Linked DNA regions of Homo sapiens. The protein of the gene in region 1 interacts with the protein of each later gene in a pairwise test. Each region holds a gene or a part of one and is shown in the gene's direction. Other genes may lie near its edges.

Region 1 (7,694 bases):
CCCCGGTATAAAGAGTTTGAAACTTAGGGAAATAATGAAACAGAAGTATAATCTAGCACTGTGATACAAAATGCAATAGAGAGGGTAGGAACATGTGGCAAAAATATCTAAGTTTGAAATAGGATCATGAGGCCAGGCACGGTGACTCATGCCTGTAATCCTAGCGCTTGGGAGGCCAAGGGAGGTGGATCACCTGAGGTCAGGAGTTCAACGCCAGCCTGGGCAACATGGTGAAACCCCGTCTCTACTAAAAATACAAAAGTCAGCCGGGTGTGGCAGGACATGCCTGTAATCCCAGGTACTTGGTAGGCTGAAGCAGGAGAATCACTTGAACCTAGGAGGCAGAGGTTGCAGTGAGCCGAGATTGTGCCACTGTACCCCAGCCTGGGCAACAGAGTGAGACTCCGTTTAAAAAACAAAACAAACAAACAAACAGAAAAAAGAAATAGGATCGTGAAAGTGTGATTACCAAGGATGAGGCATGTCTTAGGTAAGAACTGTTTGGAAGTGATGACAGATTAGCTCTATTAAATAAAGAAGGAAGAACCAATGGAGAACTCTTTACAGAGCAATGTATTCTAAGCTAAACACTAGGGATTTTAAGCTTGAAAGACTAGTATAATGGAGACACTCCTAACAAAGTTAAAGACTGCAGGAAACAATTAAGCACATATTTACCGAATGTCTGTTTGGACTAGGTACTGTTTTAGGCACTGTGAATGCAACAGCGAACAAAACACAGGGGTTGCTGCTCTCATGTAGGTTCTGGTCCACTGAGACAGATAGTAAATTAAAAATCAACAAACCAGCCTGGGCAACATAGTGAGACCCCCATCTCTATAAAAAATACAAAAATTAGCCAGGCAGGTGTGTGTAGTCCTAGCTACTTGAGAGGCTAAAGTGGGAGGATTGCTTGAGCCCAGGAGATCGAGGCTGCAGTGAACCACGATCATACCACTGCACTCCAGCCTGGGCGACACAGTGAGACCCTATCTCCAAAAAAAAAAAAAAAAATCAACAAACACCTACAAGATGTAGGTGGTAATAAATTCTGTTCAAACAACAACAACAATAAAAGCAGAGAAAAGGAATAGTGAAATAAGTGGGGATTGTGCTGTTTTCTGTAGACTTGTCAGAGAAGGTTTTTCAGATAGGTGACATTTACAGGAGAAATCTGAATGAAAAGAGCAAGCCATAAGCTATCAGGGATAACAGCATTCAGGCAGAGGGTCTTAAAGTGAGAATGTACTTATCATGGTGGAGATGTGGTTGTCAAGGAGGAGATGAAATAAAATGCTTATAAGATTATATTATGTCAGAACTTGTAGGCCATTATAAGAATTTCGAATTGTATTCTGAGATGGAAAGTCATTGGAGAATTTTGAACAGAAGCGAGATATAATCTGACTTGAATTTTAAAATAGTCACTCTGGCTACTGTGAGAAAGTTCCACAATGGGGCTGGGGTAGCCATAGGAGTAAAAGGTAGAGGCAACGAAACCATTTTAGGAGCAATAATAATAAGCAATAATCCAGGCAAGAGATATTGGTGACTTGGACTAGAATAGTAGCAGTGGGAGTGGTAAAATGTGATTGGATTCTGGATATATTTTGGAGCTAGAGCTTGACAGGGTTTGTTTTTATATAGAATGTGGAATATGAGAGAAAGTAAGTTAAGGATTATGCCGAAGTATTTGGTCTGAACATCAGATAGAGTGGATTTGTCATTCATAGAGATGGTAAAGACTGGGAGAGAAGTGGGTTTGGGGTGGAAAGACAGGAATCAAAACTTAGGGTTTGGGCCAGGCACGGTGGCTCAAGCCTGCAATCCTAGCACTTTGGGAGGCCAATGTGGGCAGATCACCTGAGGTCAGGAGTTCAAGACCAGCCTGGCCAACATGATGAAAGCCTGTCTCTACTAAAAATACAAAAATTAGCTGGGTGTGGTGGCAGGCACCTATAATCCCAGCTACTCAGGAGGCTGAGGCAGGAGAATCGCTTGAACCCAGGAGTCGGAAGTTGCAGTGAACCAAGATCTTGCCACTGCACTCCAGCCTGGACGACAGAGTGAGACTCTGCCTCAAAAAAACAAAAAAAACAGGGTTTGGACATGTTAATTTTGAGATTCCTATTAGAATCCAAGCAGAAAAGTTGAGCAAACAACTAGATATAATAAACTGGAATTCAGTGGAAGGGTCTGTGCTAGAACTACAGAATTGGGGCTTTTCAGAATACGCATAGTATTTAAAGCCACGAGATAGGATGAGATCATGAAGGGAGTAATGAGCAGTAGAAACAGAGTAGCTAGGGAGGTACAAAGAATGGGATTCTTAGATGCAGACAAAAGTAATTTGGTTTTAAATGTGCTGAATTTGTATTGCCAACCAGTTCTTTCTCTGAAAGCACTGCAGGGGCATATAATGGAGTTTACAGCTTGATTTCTGAGGCCTGACCAGAGATCCCAGAATAGAAGGCACAGCTCGCAGTACTGGCCTTTTCCCCCGGCTTTCTTTTTTCAAAATATGAGATATCAAAACACCGTTTTCTATACATCTGAGATAGCATTTTGCTGACTCTCGCTTTTATTCTGAAGACTGAGGCTACAAAATGAAAATGTATCAGGGAAATAGAGGCAGTATATGGTGATTTCTTAGTTATAAAATTTAACCTTTGAAGAGAATGGGGGAGTAATTTGAGAACCTGTTGTATGCCAATCCCTGTGCAAGGTGGTTTATACAAATGTTATTTATAATCTCAGAGAGAGTAAGTAACTAGCCCAAGGTCACAGAGCTACTAGACTAAGAGAGAGAGTAAGTAATCCATGTGATTCCAAATCCCTGCTTTTTACAATACCTTGCTGAAGAAACCTGTTATTTTTAAATGCAAGAGGAAATAAGCCCATGGAAGAATGGGAGCCACCCAGTGGCTGAAATTGAATAAATGAGTTAACTGAGGGAGCAAGGGTCAGAGAGAAGCCAAAAGTGATGGGATTGAAGGCAAAAGTAGAGACGTAAGCCTTGAAAAAGAGAAGACATCATCCTAAGATAGAAGAAATGGAGAGGAGTATGAGGGTGGAGATAGATAAAATGAAGAGTAGATGATTTTTGAGATGATTGTGATCTTGGATAAATAGAAAATAAGATAATCTTCCCAGAGAGAAGTGGGACGGGCACCTCAGAAGAGCAGAGACTATTGGGAACAGCTTAGGGAATGAATATGGAAGAGATTTCTCTCCTTCCCTTCTTTTCCCTTTCTTTCTCCTCATTTGTTCCCTTCAACCTTTTTTTTTTTTTTTTTTGGAGCTACAGTGTCTCTGTCACCCAGGCTGGAGTTCAGTAGTGTAATCATAGTTCACTATAACCTTGAACTGGGCTCAAGCAGTCCTCCTGCCTTAGTCCCCTGAGTAGTTAGGACTACAGATGTGCACCACCATGCCCAGATCATTTTTAATTTTTTTGGAGAGATGGGGTCTTGCTATATTGCCTAGGCTGGTCTCAAACTCCTGGCCTCAAGCAATCCTCCCACCATGGCATCCCAAGGGTGCCTTTTTTTTTTTTTTTTTATCATTTCTCTACATTATTTACCTTTACATATCCCCTTTCCTTTTCCTCTTTCTCTCTTAATGTTTTATTTTACCCTAAGTTCTATCTTATTTCCTCCTTTCTGCCTCTTTTCACCTTTTTCTTCTCTCCTTTGTTTTGTCTTTCTCCCTTTCCTTTCTCCACTTCTTTAAGCATAAGATAAAGAGGTAACAGTGGCACAACCAACATACTTTAGCGGTAACAACAGGAGAAATTACATCTGGGTGGAGAAGGGAAGATTCCCCAGAGGAGGCGACATTTATATTGGCCTTGAAGAATGGGTAGGGTTATGGCAGGCTTATATCTGGGAAAAAGGTCATTTCAGGGTTCAGCCACTGCCACAAATAGTATACTTTTTGTTTTCTGTTATCAGAGTGAGTCTGTCAGCTACATCTCATTTTCCTCAGGTCTCAGTCCACACTGGGGAACAGGAAATGTTCTTGCAGGAGACGGTACGTCTACGAAAAGAAGGAGAACCCAGTATGTCCCTCCAGTCCATGAAAGCCCAGCCAAAGTATGAATCTCCAGAACTTGAATCCCAACAGGAGCAAGGTAAAGAAGAAAGACCCATCTTGGGAGGAAGGGGAAGATGGGTAACATAGGACATTGGGGCTTTTTTGTACTTGCTACTGTTTCTGATCATTAAAGTCAAAAAGGCCGTCTCAGAATCTGATGGCTCATATATAGACTCTCAGACAGCCTAGTTTGTCACTCTTCAACCCTTACTTTTTTGTATATTCATATTCTTCTAAATTCTGGCTTTACCACTTAATTTAGTCCTTCTGATATTTATCTCTCTTTATACTGACCTCCTTGCTATTTTTAGCCTTTATCCTATCAGACAATACCTCTATCTTCCACTTGCACTATATCCTTTCTGCTTCACTAAATAAGCCTTTGCTCCATTATGTCTGCAACTAACTTTCAGATGGTTCAAGAAAAAAAAAATTTGTATACTTACAAAGAAAAGGAGTAACAGGCTGGGTGCGGTGGCTCACGCCTATAATCCCAACACTTTGGGAGGCCAAGGTGGGTGGATCACGAGGTCAGGAGTTCGAGACCAGCCTGACCAACATGGTGAAACCCCGTGTCTACTAAAAATACAAAAATTAGCTGGGCATGGTGGCGCGTGCCTGTAATCCCAGCTACTCAGGAGGCTGAGGCAGGAGAATCGCTTGAACCTAGGAGGCGGAGGTTGCAGTGAGCTGACATCACCCCACTGCACTCCAGCCTGAGCAACAGAGCAAGACTGTCTCAAAAAAAAAAAAAAGAAAAAGAAAAAATAATAAAACAAATGTTGCAAAATATTAAAAGTTGGTGAATGTGTGAAAGATCCGCTACCTTATTTCTACTTTCTCTGCATCCTTTTCATTTTCATTTAATTTTTTAAGTAGGTAAAAATGTACATGGCTCAAAAACAAAAATTTTTTAAGTTATTTAATGAAAAGTTTCTATTCTACTCGATTTTCCCAGCCACCTAGTCTCTTCCTCCTACTCTGAAATAGGTTGTAACTGTTACTAATTTTTCGTGTGTCCTTCCAGATATTTTTTTGATGCATATGTTTTCCATATTGAAACAAATATATTTTGCTCTCTTTATCACTAAGATGGTAGACTCTTGCATTTTTTATTTCTAAACAGCTGCTTAATATTAAAATGTATGGATACATTTTAAAGGTAGAAAGAGGTAACATTTATGATCCCTTCTTAGTTTTAGATGTTGAGACTGGAAATGAGTATGGGAATTTAAAGCAAGAAGTTTCTGAAGAAATGGAACCACATGGGAAGACATCCAGTAAATTTGAAAATGATATGTCCAAGTCTGCTAGGTGTGGAGAAACTCGTGAACCTGAAGAAATAACAGAAGAGCCCTCTGCTTGCTCCAGAGAAGATAAACAACCTACCTGTGATGAAAATGGAGTAAGCCTGACTGAGAACTCTGACCATACTGAACATCAGAGAATCTGTCCAGGAGAAGAATCTTACGGATGTGATGACTGTGGAAAAGCTTTTAGTCAGCACTCACACCTCATAGAACATCAGAGGATCCATACTGGAGATAGACCCTACAAATGCGAAGAATGTGGAAAAGCTTTCCGTGGGAGAACTGTGCTTATTCGACACAAAATAATACACACTGGAGAGAAACCGTATAAGTGTAATGAATGTGGCAAAGCCTTTGGCCGGTGGTCAGCTCTTAACCAACATCAGAGACTTCACACAGGAGAAAAACACTATCACTGTAATGACTGTGGCAAAGCCTTTAGTCAGAAAGCAGGCCTCTTTCACCATATCAAGATCCACACAAGAGACAAACCTTATCAGTGCACTCAGTGTAATAAAAGTTTTAGTCGGCGTTCCATACTTACTCAGCATCAAGGAGTTCATACCGGCGCCAAGCCGTATGAGTGCAACGAGTGTGGAAAAGCCTTTGTTTATAACTCATCCCTTGTTTCCCATCAGGAAATCCACCACAAAGAAAAATGCTATCAGTGTAAGGAATGTGGGAAATCCTTCAGTCAGAGTGGCCTTATTCAGCATCAGAGAATTCACACTGGGGAAAAACCCTACAAATGTGACGTATGTGAAAAAGCCTTTATTCAAAGGACAAGTCTTACAGAACATCAGCGAATTCACACTGGAGAAAGACCCTATAAATGTGATAAGTGTGGGAAGGCGTTTACTCAAAGATCAGTCCTCACGGAACATCAGAGAATCCACACTGGAGAGAGGCCCTACAAGTGTGATGAGTGTGGGAATGCCTTCCGAGGAATCACCAGCCTCATTCAGCATCAGAGAATCCACACTGGGGAGAAGCCCTACCAATGTGATGAGTGTGGAAAAGCCTTCAGACAGAGGTCAGATCTTAGTAAACACCAGAGAATCCATAATAGACGTGGTACCTATGTATGTAAAGAGTGTGGGAAATCATTCAGGCAGAACTCAGCTCTTACTCAACATCAGACTATCCACAAAGGAGAAAAATCTGTTTCTGTGTGATGACTACAGGGAAGTTATCTCACAGAGTTCAGGCCGGTGAGAAATACTATTTAGCTTTACAATTATTGGGGCAAAACTTCAGTCACCATTGTTATAAGGAAACCTCAGATATTTAATAAGAATTCACTGTGTGCTGCCCATTGTACTACGTGCTGTGGAGAACAAGAAGATAACCCCAAACTCTTTTCTCAGAGAGTTTGTAGCCTAGTTTGGGATAGATAAGATCCACATATTTAGTCATATAAGACTACAGGAGAGTAGAATTGATGCACCAGATGGTGTCGAATGAAAGTGGTACTTTGTAACAGACTATAAGTGCTGTAAATTCTAAAGGACAGGTTACTTTTGCCTGGAGTGGTCAAGAAAGATTTTATTTAAAATAAGGATTTGACGGGCAGACTTAGCAGTCAAAAGGGAGAAAGCGGGTAAAACAAATGTAAGCCATCATAAGAGTGCATGTGGTTTGGAAGCATCAGGGAAAAGACTAGCCAACCTGAAGTAAAAGGTTCGTGCAAATTGGGCAATCAATAGCATTAAGTTGGAAACAGCTTGGGGACAGACACATAAGAGGGCCAGAGTGTGAATAATTTCATCTAATACTTTATAGCACTTGGACATTTACAGAGCACTTTTCTCAATTCCTAAAATACCTTGGTAAATCAAAAGCATTCTCCATTTTAAAAATGAGAATACTCTTGCCTATGGAGATGGCAACATAGCTATAATCCCACACAAAGAAAAAGACCAGTAACCTAAGTGCAGGTCTTTTGACTTCTAGTCCTGGCCATTACTCTAGTGATCCTCCAACTTTGATGAACATCAAAATCATGTTTGGAGCTTGTTTAACATCCCTGAATCCCACTCACATTCTGCTTCATTAGGCCTAGGATGGGAGTTGAGAATCTTCATTTTTATAGCTCCACAGTTACTTAATATACTTTAAAATTTGAGAAGCGTTGAGTTGAATGACAGCTGACTTCATGGCTGTCTGCGAAGTGGGGAAGCCTGAACACAGTCCTATAAACTAAAGGCCACTGCAGACTTTTAGCACAAGGAGATCCTTACAGGGAACATGTGCCATCAGCTCTTTGGAGTGAACAAGGAATTAGACCCC
Region 2 (7,000 bases), on another chromosome or scaffold:
AGTGATGGCAGCAGTAGGTGGCTACTTGATGTGGCGGAATTGGCAACACAAGAACATGAAAAGCATGAACTTTGACAATCCTGTGTACTTGAAAACCACTGAAGAGGACCTCTCCATAGACATTGGTAGACACAGTGCTTCTGTTGGACACACGTACCCAGCAGTAAGTCAGCTTTGTGTCTTTATACACCATGGCTTGAAGTGAGACTTTTCAGAAAGGAGACCTGGGTGAGAGAGAGAGAGCCATTAGGATGATGGAGTTACCAAACACTTCATCTGCTACCTGGCTATTAGACAGACAGTATAGCCTGTTAGAACATAAGTCACTCAGTTGATCAGCATCTAACCCTCACCAACTGACAAGTGGGTCAACTTAAAGTCACCACTATATTAAGATATTTTTGGTTATAGAAATGACATGTAAATACTAGCATGAACCAAGTAGCTCATTACTGAACTATTAAATCCATTGCCTACTGGATATTTGAAAGTAAATTAGCATATCATATATAGGGGAGTTGGCTTAAAGTCAGTGTATTGAGTAAGATTCACTTAGCCAAAATTATTATATGCTTTGCTTTAAAAAGGTATCCCACCGCCCTTAGTATAGCTAGCTTTTCTTCCAGCAATAGTCACTCACTTGTTCTTCAGATGAAACCCAAGTGGAGTATTTGGCCTTCACGTAGGAAACAGGCTGAACAAAACAAGTATTGATCACTCCCCTCTCAAACTCCGGTGAAACATGGAACAGTGGTCAATTCTTGACACACACATGGCTTTTCACATTTTTCCCCAAGACTTATGATCATTAAGTAGAAAAGACAGAATTAGTCACACTATCTTATCTCACTACCAAGCAGGTATAGTTGAATTCAAGTTAAATGCATGAATGATACAACTCAGTATTCTTTTGTATCTGACTGACTTTTCTTCTAAGCACTCTGAGTGTTTGAATGACCAACTCAAAAGCAAGGTCCATTTTAAAGACTAGAGTTGCCATCAGTGAGTGATCACCAAGCTCATTCTATACTTCTTCTTTTCCACAGATATCAGTTGTAAGCACAGATGATGATCTAGCTTGACTTCTGTGACAAATGTTGACCTTTGAGGTCTAAACAAATAATACCCCCGTCGGAATGGTAACCGAGCCAGCAGCTGAAGTCTCTTTTTCTTCCTCTCGGCTGGAAGAACATCAAGATACCTTTGCGTGGATCAAGCTTGTGTACTTGACCGTTTTTATATTACTTTTGTAAATATTCTTGTCCACATTCTACTTCAGCTTTGGATGTGGTTACCGAGTATCTGTAACCCTTGAATTTCTAGACAGTATTGCCACCTCTGGCCAAATATGCACTTTCCCTAGAAAGCCATATTCCAGCAGTGAAACTTGTGCTATAGTGTATACCACCTGTACATACATTGTATAGGCCATCTGTAAATATCCCAGAGAACAATCACTATTCTTAAGCACTTTGAAAATATTTCTATGTAAATTATTGTAAACTTTTTCAATGGTTGGGACAATGGCAATAGGACAAAACGGGTTACTAAGATGAAATTGCCAAAAAAATTTATAAACTAATTTTGTACGTATGAATGATATCTTTGACCTCAATGGAGGTTTGCAAAGACTGAGTGTTCAAACTACTGTACATTTTTTTTCAAGTGCTAAAAAATTAAACCAAGCAGCTTAACCATGGTTTGTGCCTGTTCCTCTAGGATGAACTCCTATCCTGAGTAGTACCAAGTGTTCTAACTAAATGTGTGAGCTGTAGTTCTTGATGTTGTATAACTAAGCCTGTAATTGGGCTGGTTTCTCTTACACCCTAGCACAGTTAAAAAATGAAGTACTGTTTAACATTTGCTCCCGAAATATTTCTTACTGTGTAAAAGAAGCTAGCTTAGTCTGTACCTAGAATTCCTCTTGGTTAGAGGAGTGAGTTTCTTTTTTTTCCATTAACTTGTTTCCTGATCGAGAAACACGTGCTAAGATTTCTATGAATTCTGCTTCTTTATAGTTAAGTCTCTGTTTTCCATGTTCTGTCATTTATATAGGTCAAGGACAAGTGCCTTCTAAGGCATGGATAAGGGCTTTCTTCTTATGAAAGTCTAGACTGTCTTACTGTGAAGATGGCCAGGGAGGATAGCAAGCAATGGCATTCTTGAACAGTCTAAGGCAGGTTTCTCAGTGTGGTCCTGAGAACAGAAGCATCTGCATCACCTGGGAATGTATTAGAAATGCAAGTTCCCAGCCCCATCCCAGACCTACTGAATCAGAAACTCTGGGGGCGAGGGCTGAAACCTGCTTTCATAAGCCCTTCAGGCGATACTGATGTAAACTAAAGCTTAAAAACCACCGTTTTACTGTGACTTCATGAAGAATATAATTGCAATATCACCTAAATTTTTATCCTGGCTGGGATGGGGCAGATTCTTACTATGGACAATTTCTGGAACTTACAGTATGAAGAGCAGATGAGGAGTTTGAGACAAAGAAAAAATTGTACAGGGAGTTTAGTGAATTTTCCATCAGGTTGGCCATTACTTTCTTTCTCTAAAGTCTCAGGATGTCTGGAAGCAAGGAAAGACAAAAGACTTGAAGCACCGGGTGCATGCTGTGTGTCACAAGTGAGGTGGAGAGTTGGCTGTGGAAGGTACAGCAATTCCTCTGGAATTAAATGACCGACCAACACAGTACCAAGAGGATGAAGAGAAGATGTTTTGCGTTGCTACGTGAATCAGTGGATGACTCATATTTCACTTGCATATGAAATATAAGGCAGTTAACATCTTGTTTGTGGCTTAAGCAAGGACATTAATCCTACTAGATGAAGGGGAAGTTGGTTCTGTTGTCTTAAGGGATGCCCCCTTGTGATTTTGGTCAACTGAATGAAAAAGAAAAGATAGCCTTGGACTTTTTTTTCATGGGAGGTTTGGAGGTCAAGCATGTAGAAGGAAAAGGCTGTAGTCATGAATATAGAACTGTCTGCTCTCCACCTTTTCCTCACTCTACATTTAGTCATCACACTGAACAGGATGTGGCCTGCTGACAGTGAGTAGCTGAAGTGCCTGTTTGGTAAGTAGGTTAGCATTCATCATGAACTCTGAAAGCCATTTCAGAGTTTGGCTGCTGCTCTGACCCTGCTGTGGTACAAAAAACATGGATTTTTTTTTTTTTAACTGGAGTAATACCAAATTCCCTTTAGAAGCTTGAAGTTTGATACTATTGCTTTCCCCATTATAAGGATTATACAGTATTAATTAATTATAAGGCCCAAAGTTTGTTTTGGCAAATAAAGTATTATTCTCTATCATCATCTTTTGAATTCCTGTCCCTAGTATGTTCTTTCATGTTCTGGGTAAAATTTCCAACCCTCAAAGAGTCTAAAACGTCTCATTTTTTTTTACCACGTCCTCCCCAGTAAGAAGCCAAGGTACAACTCATTGTACCTACGAGGTACAAACTCATTTGTAGAAACAAAGTAACTAGATATTCCTATTGAAATAAGAATAGATATATTGGTGGGCCAGGCATGGTGGCTCACGCCTATAATCCCAGCACTTTGGAAGGCCAAGGCAGGAGGATCACTTGAGGCCAGGAGTTCGAGACCAGCCTGAGCAACATGGTGAGACCCTGTCTCTACAAAAAAAAAATTTATAAAAATAAAAGAAAAAAATAGTTATATGACTAAACTACTAGTCAATACAGCTTGCAATAATAGTGCATGAATGATAACAGGCCTCGGCTTTATCACCCAAAAAATAACTTGAATTCTATGTGAAATGTGTTAGGATAAGTTTGCTCTGTCTCTAGAGTTCAATGTAGAAGATAATTAAGAGGTAAAATATGAAGCTTATCATACACTAAAGGAGAATATTTGGAGTTAGATGAGCCTGTCACACAAAGTGAAAGTGGACCCTCCAGAAATTTTAGGAATTGCCACAAAGATTGATGATAGATGAATAAACAGATTTGTGGCCTCTGGTAAAGAAATCCAGCCAAGTTCCTCTGTCCAAATTTTTAAGTGCCCTTTGCAAGCTAATCTATTTGGCAAAAAAATAGTCCCAGTTGTTCAACTAGCTCCCTTAAAACATTCTAGTAGGTGTTTTAAAGCCTAGGTATCGCTGCCTCTTTAGTTCTTGATGAATACAAGGCAAAAAAAAAAAAAAAAAAAAAAAAAAAATTGAGGCTTTCACTTTGGCATTTGCTTCTGTTCCTTGTATCTGTGGAAGTCAAGTAGCCCTTCTCAAAAATGAGAAGCCAAGCTTTAAATAGCAAACTACAGGGTATTAAAAGACTAACTCTTCAGTTAAGAACACTGTAGAAATGGTAGACCAACTTAAAGTCTACCTTTTAACAATCTTTACCCCAAACCTAAAGATTCTAGGGGTCACTTATCTCTATTACGTAATCTAACTGGAATAATTTCCTAGAATTCTTACTAGTGAAATCTTACCCAAGTAAAACAATTTATTATTTTGAATCCAAATGAAAGCTATACTGTTTGCTTTCAATGGTGGCAAAAACTTGCAAAAAGCAGATATACTTTTGCTAATTTAAGTTGAAGTACTATGAATACAACCTGCTAATCTTGATCCCCAAATCTGAGCCCTTCAGTTTCATAATTGTTTTATCCTGAACGTAGTTGTGACATAGACATTTCTCAAAAGGGTCTGATACATCAAACTCCTAACAAGTAGGAGCAGCAACTAGCTAAAGAGTAGAAAGAAGCTTCCCTTATTGTGGGTGATGAGGCGGTGCCTAAAAACCACATATATATAATCCCCTGGGTATTACATATTCTGCAAGCCCTGTTAGTGGGGAGATGGTAGTGGCAATAGCAGCGATAGTTGCGTCAGTGCTAACTGCTGCTGCTGCCCGTTCTGTTGGCGGCTGCTGGCCAAGTGTGCACACTTAGCCCTGGTTGAGGTGCATTGTCTGCTGTCGTCTGTTAAGCATCTAACCGGAGTGGGAGGGCACATCAAGCGATTTCACTCTCTTAAAGAAAAGGTTTTTAGGTATTTTTGGTATTATATAGTCTCTAAGGCCAGAAGGGGCTTATAATGACTTCTCTTCTAGAATTGTAATACTAAAAAACTACTCGAGTAAATATCCTAACAAGTATGATTTTTCTTGGGAAAACTAAAAATTGTACATCCATGCTTCAGCCATATCATGGGCCTAAACTATGAGAGTTCAGAAATATATAAAAGTACAAAAATCTTCAAAGGTACTTATTTCCAAATATGGAGGGAATGAATCTGAAGAGGGAACAATGGCGTTTTTCGAACTTATTTCTCTCTAATCCAGCCTGGAGGATTTTTAGCCGAAACAGTTGCATGTGAAGGATTATCAGCCATCTTTGCATATCCCTTTCACATCTACCTTCACACAGGAAAGCTGAATGCATTTTACCAGTGAGGCTCTAGATATGAAACTTAGGGATCCATAGATAAATAAGCTACTAACAAACTGATAACAGTGGTGTTCCATCTCTCTATCATGTCTCCTGAGTCCGTTTCACGTTTTTGAGCCTGGCTAATGAGAAAAAGAACAAAGTAGGACCATGACCCAGTGTTCTCCTGTAAATCTCACTGTAAAAATCTCAATGCAAAAACACTGAGACAGGAGTGAGACCAGCTGCGGGTGGGGAGTTTGTGCTCCGCAGGTTACCTCATGGCATATCAAAAATGGCTTTTTTCTTCACTGCGCTCAAGGAAAAAGTCAGATGGGTGACAAGGTGGTTCTGTTTAGAAGCAGCAGGCAATGTAGTTAACAGCATAGACTTCCGTGTCTTGTGTGTGGTACCTTGGGCAAGTTACTAACTCCCTCTGTAAAGTAGAGACGATGGGGACTGTCTCACTGTGACAAGGTAAGATTTAAGTGAGATGCACACAAAAAGCTCAGCACAGTGTCTGGCATCTAATATGTGCAGGGCAGATGTCACTACTGAATATCACATCAATGCTAGGGCTGTATTTACTGTCACACACAGGCACCGGTAAGTGACTTTACCGGTGAAAGTCACAGGTACCTTTATCTATGATGAATGTAATGTGTTAGATGGTGACCGAAGTGTTCTCCACTACACCTGTCTGAAGAGATCTAAGTCTGATATTTAAGGAGTGATAGCATCTTGCATACTTAAGAAGGCTTAAAAGACTGCATGGTTTAAACCCTAGAAACATAAATGGAATGTTTCTGCCTCAGTTCTTTTGACTACCTCCTAGGACATGGAAACAAATATTTGGGAGCCTGCATAGTCTTTAGATGGCTGCCAAAGCACTTAAAATCTCCTTTAAATTCTTACCATATGCTTACTTTTGTACTAAGTAAGTGCTCCCAAGTCTTTTACTTGCTCTTCACAGCAACCCTAATAGGTATCTCCATTTTACATAGGTAAAAACTGAGGCTACAAACAATCTATGGTTCCAAATCCTATGTGCTTACTGCCGTCTTCTCTTAGAAGGGGATGCAGTACTGTACAAAGATTGAGCTGGATGTCGCATTGCATGTTTGCTGAGTCCTCCTCATTGCTGATGTTAGGATCCTTCAACAGTTTCTCAGATGCCAGCTATGGCTGGCATCCAGTATGGTGGTGTAATGGAAGTGTACTACTAGCACTACTACATCAGGTCAGCACAGATTAACTCAGTTACGTGTTATACCTTCAAGACGCTAGACATTCCAGAATTATTTTCCTTGGCCATCCAAGTGAAGTAGAAGTAGATTGTTGGATTGCAAAGAAAATGATAAAGATTCCCTAAAGGAATTTATAAGCAGGCAACTTCATTCCTATGTATAAGATATTGGGAGAAAACAAACTGTACCACAACAAATCTTAAGTTTCAAGGCTCTCCTATAGGGAGAAACATGGCCAAAAAGACAGGAAGAACTGTGGCTTGTAACTCAATGATGCTATAACTCCAGCACTGGATCTTAAGTATTCTGGAATATACCAGATTGGTAGAACTACCAGACTTGGGTATTTCTCAGTTA
Region 3 (7,942 bases), 110 kb from region 1:
GCCTTTTGGAACATCTCAGAATTCATACTGGAGAGAAACCTTATCTATGTATCCATTGTGGAAAAAATTTTAGGCGCAGCTCTCACCTTAATCGACATCAGAGAATTCACAGTCAGGAGGAGCCCTGTGAGTGCAAGGAGTGTGGAAAAACCTTTAGTCAGGCCTTACTCCTCACCCACCATCAGAGAATCCATAGTCACTCCAAAAGCCATCAATGTAACGAGTGTGGAAAAGCTTTCAGTTTGACCTCAGACCTTATTCGACACCACAGAATTCATACTGGAGAAAAACCTTTCAAGTGTAACATATGCCAGAAAGCCTTCCGACTAAACTCACACCTTGCTCAGCATGTAAGAATCCACAATGAAGAAAAACCCTATCAGTGTAGTGAATGTGGAGAAGCCTTCAGGCAAAGGTCAGGTCTTTTTCAACATCAGAGATATCACCACAAAGACAAACTGGCTTGATGAGGTGTTCTCTCCTTGTAGAACATCAGAGAAGGCACATTGACTAGCAAACAGCACTTTAGGAAAAGTCACCGTAGCCCACTGTGGCATCAGAAAATTCTTGGGGGCTGAGTTGGAGGCTCCCTGCCTCTATTCTCTCTCCTTTGCTTTCCTTGAAGTCAGCTTTGGACCACAATAATTTCACTGTAGATGATATGCTAGGATCAAAGTTAAACAGCATTCTTCACTGCAGGACATCTCAGAGCATGTAACATAACTGCATGATTATATACTCTAAGCAATAGAGAGCTTCATGACTGAGTAAGAGTTTTGAAGTCAGCAGTGAATCAAGTGCCCACAGATTTGCAGGCTTAAGCAGAACAAGGGAAGATTGATATTTTTGGATATGCTATAGCAGCTTTCTCCTATGAAATAAAACTGATGATGTTTGGAAGTATACTACTCTCAAAGGTGTCTTTAAAGTACAGGTTAATGGTGAACATTTTCCCCCAGTGGCTTCACCTCATTCCTCCCACTGGCCTTACCCCTTCCTTCCCCAGTGGAAGCATTTTCAAAAGCAAAGATAATTTTCGCTGGTGAACTTCAGAACTTGCCTTCAGGGTTAGCTTCATGTAATTTTACCATTTCCCATCCCCATTCCCCACCACATTATGTCAAGATTCAAGTTATAAATTAACGTTTTACTTAGACTTTGAAAGAGATTTCATGAGTAATTTGAATGAACCTTGCTGAATTAATCTGAATAGCAACTGTCTGACTTGATAACTCCAGTGCCAGTATAGTGGCTGCTGCATAGACACTATTCAGTAAATGTCTGATGAAAGAAATTGGACTTTTTCCCTTTAATACTGATGATGCAATTTTGAAATGTTGCTTGTTCTGGAATACTTCGGAAGTTAAACAATAAAGTCAGCTTGGAGAGGAGATCATGATCTTTATACTGTGAATAGCAGAATGTCACAGATGAAGAATATTAAAATTAGGGGCGTCCACTCCAAAACATATCACCAGAGTGACAACTTCAGCCCTCAGCCTCTGCAATCCATATATATCCTGGTCTTGGGAGTCCATAGAATACTGTTTCCTTCTAATAAAGGTTTCAAACAAATCCCTGCAGATTTATTTAAAGTGTTTGTGGAAGATAATTTTCCATATAAGCTGTGCAGTATTCTATGGTATATGTCCCCATTGTTCATCATTTACGTCATTTACAGTTTGATCACCATAAACAATTTTTCAGTGAACATCCTTGTATATACAACTTTGCCTACTTACAGAATTTTTTTCTTTGTTCAGTTCCCATAATGAGAATCAATGAGGCAGAAGGTAGGCATATTTTCTAAGGCTTTTGATGCATTTTCCAGAATGCCCTCCAGAAAAGTTACACTAATTTGTACACCCTGTTAGCAGCCTATGATAATGCCCAATTTTCTATACCCACGTAAACTGGGAATTATTCTTTTGAATATTTGACAATCTGATGTGTACAAAATGGTTTGCTTTTTTTAATAAACCATTTTTTAGAGCAGTTTTAAGTTCTCAGCAAAATTGAGAGGAAGATACAAAGATTTCTCATATACCCACTGCTCCCATTCATGTATAGCCTCCCCTATTATCAACATCCCCTCCCAGGGTGACATTTGTTACAATTGATGAACCTACATTGACATATTATCACCCAAAGACCATAGTTTACATTAGGGTTCACTCTTGGTATTGTTCATTTTATGGGTCTGGACAAATACATAATATCGTGTCCACCATTATAGTTTCACTGCCCTAAAAATCCTCTGTGCCTTACCTATTATTCATCCCTCCCTTTTTCCAGCCCCTAGCAACCACTGACCTTTCTACAGTCTTTATAGTTTTGCCTTTTCCAGGATGTCATGTATACAGGTTGAGTACAGCTAATCTGAAAACCCAAAATCCAAAATGCATTAAAATGTGAAACTTCAGCACCAACATGATGCTACAAGTGAAAAATTTCATACCTGACCTCGTGACAGGTCATAGACAAAATCCAGTCAATACTTTGTTTCGGCTGGGTGCAGTGGCTCAAGCCTGTAATCCCAGCACTTTGGGAGGCCAAGGTGGGTGGATCACCTGAGGTCAGGCGTTTGAGACCAGCCTGGCCAACATGGCGAAACCCCGTCTTTGCTAAAAATATAAAAATTAGCCGGGTGTGGTAGCATGCACCTGTAGTTCCAGCTACTTGGGAGGCTGAGGCACGAGAATCGCTTGAACCCAGGAGGCGGAGGTTGTGGTGAGCCAACATTGTGCCACTGCACTCCAGTCTGGGCAACAGAGCAAGACTCAATCTCAAAAAAAAAGACTATGTTTCATGCACGAAAGTATTTAAACTGTATAAAATTAGCTCTATGTGAGTAAGGTATATATGAAACAAATGAATTTCATGTTTAGACTTGGGCCTCATCCCTAAGATATTTCATAATGTATGTATATATTCCAAAATCCGAAATTGGAAACACTTCTGGCCCCAAGCATTTCAGATAAGGGATACTCAACTTGTAGTTGAAATCATACAGTATGTAGCTTTTCAGACAGGATTCTTTCACTTTGTAATATGCTTTTAAATTTTCTCAATATCTTTTCATGCCTTGATAGCTCATTTCTTTTTTTTTTCTTTTTTTTTTTTGACATAAGGTCTCACTCTGTTGGCCAGGCTGGAGTGCTGTGGTACGATCTTGGCTCACTACAACCTTTGCTTCCTGGGTTTAAGCAATTCTCCAGCCTCAGCCTTCTGAGTAGCTGGGACCACAGGCGCACACCACCACGGCCGGCTAATTTTTTGTATTTTTAGTAGAGATGGGGTTTCACTGTGTTGCCCAGGCTAGTCTCCAGCTCCTGAGCTCAAAGTGATCCACCTGCCTCAGCCTCCCAAAGTGCTGGGATCACAGGCTTGAGCCACCGTGTCTGGCCAGCTTATTTCTTTTTAGCACTGAATAATATTCCATTGTCTGCATATACCACAGCAAAAGAAATATCTGTTAAAGGACTGTTATCCAAAATACAGAAAGAACTCTTAAAACTCAGAAATAAGGAAACAACCCGATTCAAACATGAGCCAAAGACCTTGACAGACACCTCATTAAAGAAGATATACAGATGGAAAATAAGCATATGAAAAGATGCTCCACACCATATCCCATCAGGGAAATTGCAAATTAAAACAACTGTGAGATGCCACTACACATCTATTAGAATGACCAAAATCCAGAACACTGACACATCAAATTCTGGTATGGATGTGGAACAACAGGAGCTCTCATTCATTGCTGGTGGGAATGCAAAATGATACAGCCACTTTGGATGACAGTTAGGTAGTTTCGTACAAAATTAAACATACTCTTACCATGTGATACAGCAATCGCCCTCCTTAGTGTTTACCCAAAGGAGCTGAAAACCAGTGTCTACACAGAAGTTTGCACACAGATGTTTATAGCGGCTTTATTCATAATTGCCAAAACTCAGTAGGTAAATGAATAAATAATGGGTCTGTTTTTTAAAGAGTTTTTTATATTTTTACTATTGAACATCTTTTCACATGTTAATTTGTCACTTATCTTGTGTGTAGTAATGTTCATATCCTTTACTAATTTTTCTACTAAAGTCTCCTTTTACTCTTAAACAGAAGTGCCCTTAAAAATCAAATAGGGAACTTGCATATCAGCATTTTAAATGCACGTGTCCTTTGGCTGAACAGTTCTAATATGTGGCATTTATCCTAGAAATATATTCTTAAAAGAATGTAAAGGTATTGAATGGTGTTCCCTCTAGCATTGCTTTTAAAGAAAAAATATAACCTAAGTATGCATCAATAGGATAGTTAAGTAAATTATGGAACACTCATACAGTATTACTTAGCTGTTAAAGAATAAGCTGATCTGTGAAGATCTCCAAGTTGTCTTAACCGAAAAGAGCTAAGGTGCAAAATTACATTATGATACCATAAGTGTTTTAAAATGTATAAATACTTATTCACTAAACAAAATGTTCATTAAGTGCTACTGTGTGGCAGGTAGTGTCCTAGATAAATATGAACAAAATACAATGGTTAACTCTAAAGAGGGGACACTTTTCGTTTTATGGTCCTTTTGCAACTTGACTTTTTTATTGTACATATATTATGTATACTTAAAGAAAATAATTTGTACAGCTTACTATAATGGTCTTTTTATTGATCTGTCTCTCCTACCAGCCAGTGATGACCCCGAAGACAGACATTTACCACTGTGTTGGTTTTCAATCGAAATGATGTACATAAATTTGGGGCGTGCTTGCACCGTCCGAATGGGCCTGGGGTCCGGCGGCGGAGAGTGACCTGGGCGGGGCAGGAGGTGGCAGCGGGGGTCCTCCCGGCTCACCAGAGAGACGAGCGGCCGTGCTCCTAGAGAGGCAGGGAACCCGCCAGACTCCGCCACTCCGCTGCGGGCGCGGCGCAGGGAGAAGCTTTTGTACCCGCCCAGCTGCTGGAGGCGCCGGCAGCGCCCGCCAGACCCGCCAGCCCAGCGGCCCGGGCTCTGGGGAAACCGGCGCTCCCGACAGGGGAGCACCGGGCCTCTGAGCTCCCTCGGGAGCCTTTCACGAGGTCAGCTACGTCTTTGTTGTGCGCGTTCCTGAACTTTTGGTCCATTAACCAACAATTAGACACGCCGGTATTCAGTGCCTGGCGCGGTGCTAGATGCTGGGTGTAATCTCAGAAAAATACATTCAGGGGCGCGCCTGAGGGTGCTGGCTGCTGGCATCTCAGGTGCTTTACGTGCATTCGTGAAGAAGCCCATCAGTATTTCTTGAATACCAGGTACGTGCCGGGCATGTAGAGTCTATGCAGAGATAAACTCCTGTCCTCAAGAACCCGGGTGGGGATGGGGTTGGTGATCTGTAATACGAGATGGAGATGAGGGTTGGGTGCAGTTTTCTATGGGAATACCCCATCTCAACCTGTGTGGCTTACTTTTCCTGTCTATATGTTAGGGTTAGGGGTTGCCAGGGAAGGTTTTACAATAGAACATTTACGCTGGGCCTTGGGAATTTACCCTTAGAAGGGCGGTCCTGACTGTATAGAGTGGGTGGAAAAAAATTGAGTACTTAGCATGGCAGTGACATAAGAAATTTGGGAAGACCATGGCTTTCTTGAAAGCAGGAACCAAGTCTTTTATTCCAGAGTTAACTTTATGCCTGGAAAATAATGAGATGCTCCACAAATGTTGATTGAGTGACAAACAAATCAGCAAAACCCAGTAAAGATTAGATCCTGGGGAGTTTGAATTTACTTCAACGAGTTTAATGAAAACTTTGTGTGTGTTTATGTGTGTGTGAGGTATGTTGAATATGGTCACAACTGTGCTTTAGGGAATATTAATCCAGTGACCATAGAAGCGGGGAGTTGGGCAGGAATACCGTAACAGAACATTATTGTAACAGTGAATGAAAATAATAGTAAAATTATAAGAAGGAAAGAATGGCTGCAAGAGGCGTTTTTAAGAATTGACTCACTGATTGTGTATAGAGGCTGTTTAAAAGACTGAATGCGTGGAAGATGATGGTGATGCCAGTAGAAATGGAGAAATACCGAGTGAACGCAGCTTTGAGGGACTCTGATTTCAGTTTGAGATCTGTTGAAATTATAGTGCAGTAGAGGCCCACAGCTGCTGGCATTTCAAGATGTGGGTTTGGAGTGCAAAAAGCAAGCTGGTGCCAAAGATTTGAGTCTTCTTGGAACAGAGATATATTGAAAGTGTGACTAAGGAGATCACAAAGGAAAAAATGAAAAGAGGGAATAAAAGAACTTGATGCATGTCTACTGTTTTTCAGTTATGTATTGTTGCATCAAAAATAAAACTCTAAACTTAGTGGCTGAAAACAAGCTCAGCTTATTGTTCCTCAGGATTATGCGGGTTGACTAGGCGGTTCTACTGGTCTCACCTGGAGTTACTAATAGAGCTGCATTCAGGTGGTGAATTATTTGAGCACTAGGCCTGGCTGGGCTTTAACTTGGGCATTTTGGTTCTCATCCACATGACCTCTGTATAGCTAGCTTGGGCTTCCTTACAGCATGGCAGTCTTATGGCAGTGAGCCAAGAGCTACAGCAGCACTCTCTCTTACAATGTCATTTCTGCTGTATTCCACTGGTCAAAGCAAGTCATAGGCCAGAACAGATTCAAGGGAAGGAAAAAGAGACTCCACCCCTTGAATGACAACAGTGGCAAAATCTCATCACAAAAGGTATTTGAGAATGGGAGACTTTGGAAACATTCTGTTACACCTACATTTAAAGTGGAATATTCAATGAGAGTTACACAGATATAGAAGACCTTTGAGACTGTATTATTTGTCCATGAAGGCAGCCATCTGCCTCCTCAATGGGTAAATTATCCCCTCTCCCCAGCTGAAGTGCAAGCTACTCGAGCTTTCTTATTGCTAACACTTCTTCCCTCATGTCCTACATCCCTTACCTTTGGACTCAGGCCCTTTAGTACTAGTTCAAAATATACTTCTGATTCATTTCACTGATAATAGAAGCAAGCAGGCTCAGCTTTTGAGCATTACCTACAGTGGGGACAAAAATGTAAGTAGGTTACATACAGTTTTGAAGCTCTTATAATTTGCATGTTGCTGATAAATTCTTATGCCTCAGATCTCTATTTCTGAATATAGACCCCAAGCTAAGTGAAGCTTTAGCCTCTAAGCTCAACATGTATGAAGCTTTGCCAGGCCCTGCTCCTGAAAATGAAGATGGCCTTGTGAAAGTGAAGGAGGAAGATCCCACCTGGGAGCAGGTGTGCAACTCACAGGAGGGCAGCTCCCACACTCAGGAGATTTGCCGCCTGCGCTTTCGGCACTTCTGCTACCAGGAGGCTCACGGACCCCAGGAAGCTCTGGCCCAACTCCGAGAACTTTGTCATCAATGGCTGAGACCGGAGATGCACACCAAGGAACAGATAATGGAACTGCTGGTGCTGGAGCAGTTCCTGACCATCCTGCCCAAGGAGCTCCAGCCCTGTGTGAAGACATATCCTCTGGAGAGTGGAGAGGAGGCAGTGACAGTGCTGGAGAATCTAGAGACAGGAAGTGGAGACACAGGACAACAGGTGGGAAGAGAATGTGTGTGGTGATGTGGGAGAAGAAAAGGGGGACATGTATCGGTTTATTTTTAACGTTTTATTTTGAAATAACTCCTAATTTATAGAAGTATTAGAAGAATAGAGAACTCCCGTAAAACTCTTCATCCAAATTTGCCAGTTGTTAACATTTGTTTGATGAAGTCCCATTGTTGTGTACACACTCGTACAAGGAAGTGCATTCCCCCCCCCCAAGATGCATATGTATATGTATACACACACATACATACACATATGCAGTATTTTTTTTTCCTGAATCTATTTGAGAGTCAGTTGCAAACACTATATCCCTTTACCTCACTGTTGACCAGGCTGGAGTGCAGTGGTACGAT

Evidence for each region. Proteins that work in one complex are often made in the same cells at the same time.
Region 2: the proteins of ZSCAN12 (region 1) and VLDLR interact in binary tests that used the Homo sapiens proteins (3 or more experiments, as listed by UniProt).
Region 3: the proteins of ZSCAN12 (region 1) and PGBD1 interact in binary tests that used the Homo sapiens proteins (3 or more experiments, as listed by UniProt).

Annotation. Positions count from the first base shown.
Region 1 is NC_000006.12:28,389,340-28,397,033, reverse strand, and holds part of ZSCAN12 (zinc finger and SCAN domain-containing protein 12), read left to right. Parts: intron 1-3,953; coding exon of another isoform or gene 3,954-3,987; coding exon 3,988-4,132; intron 4,133-5,291; coding exon 5,292-6,580; 3' UTR 6,581-7,694. UniProt on the Homo sapiens protein: May be involved in transcriptional regulation.
Region 2 is NC_000009.12:2,652,787-2,659,786, forward strand, and holds part of VLDLR (very low-density lipoprotein receptor isoform a precursor), read left to right. Parts: coding exon 1-163; exon of another isoform or gene 164-224; intron 225-1,046; coding exon 1,047-1,082; 3' UTR 1,083-7,000. UniProt on the Homo sapiens protein: Multifunctional cell surface receptor that binds VLDL and transports it into cells by endocytosis and therefore plays an important role in energy metabolism.
Region 3 is NC_000006.12:28,276,630-28,284,571, forward strand, and holds the start of PGBD1 (piggyBac transposable element-derived protein 1), read left to right. Parts: upstream 1-4,942; 5' UTR 4,943-5,289; intron 5,290-7,126; exon of another isoform or gene 7,127-7,146; 5' UTR 7,147-7,184; coding exon 7,185-7,580; intron 7,581-7,942. Other genes in the region: ZSCAN26 (zinc finger and SCAN domain-containing protein 26), read left to right, coding at 1-467.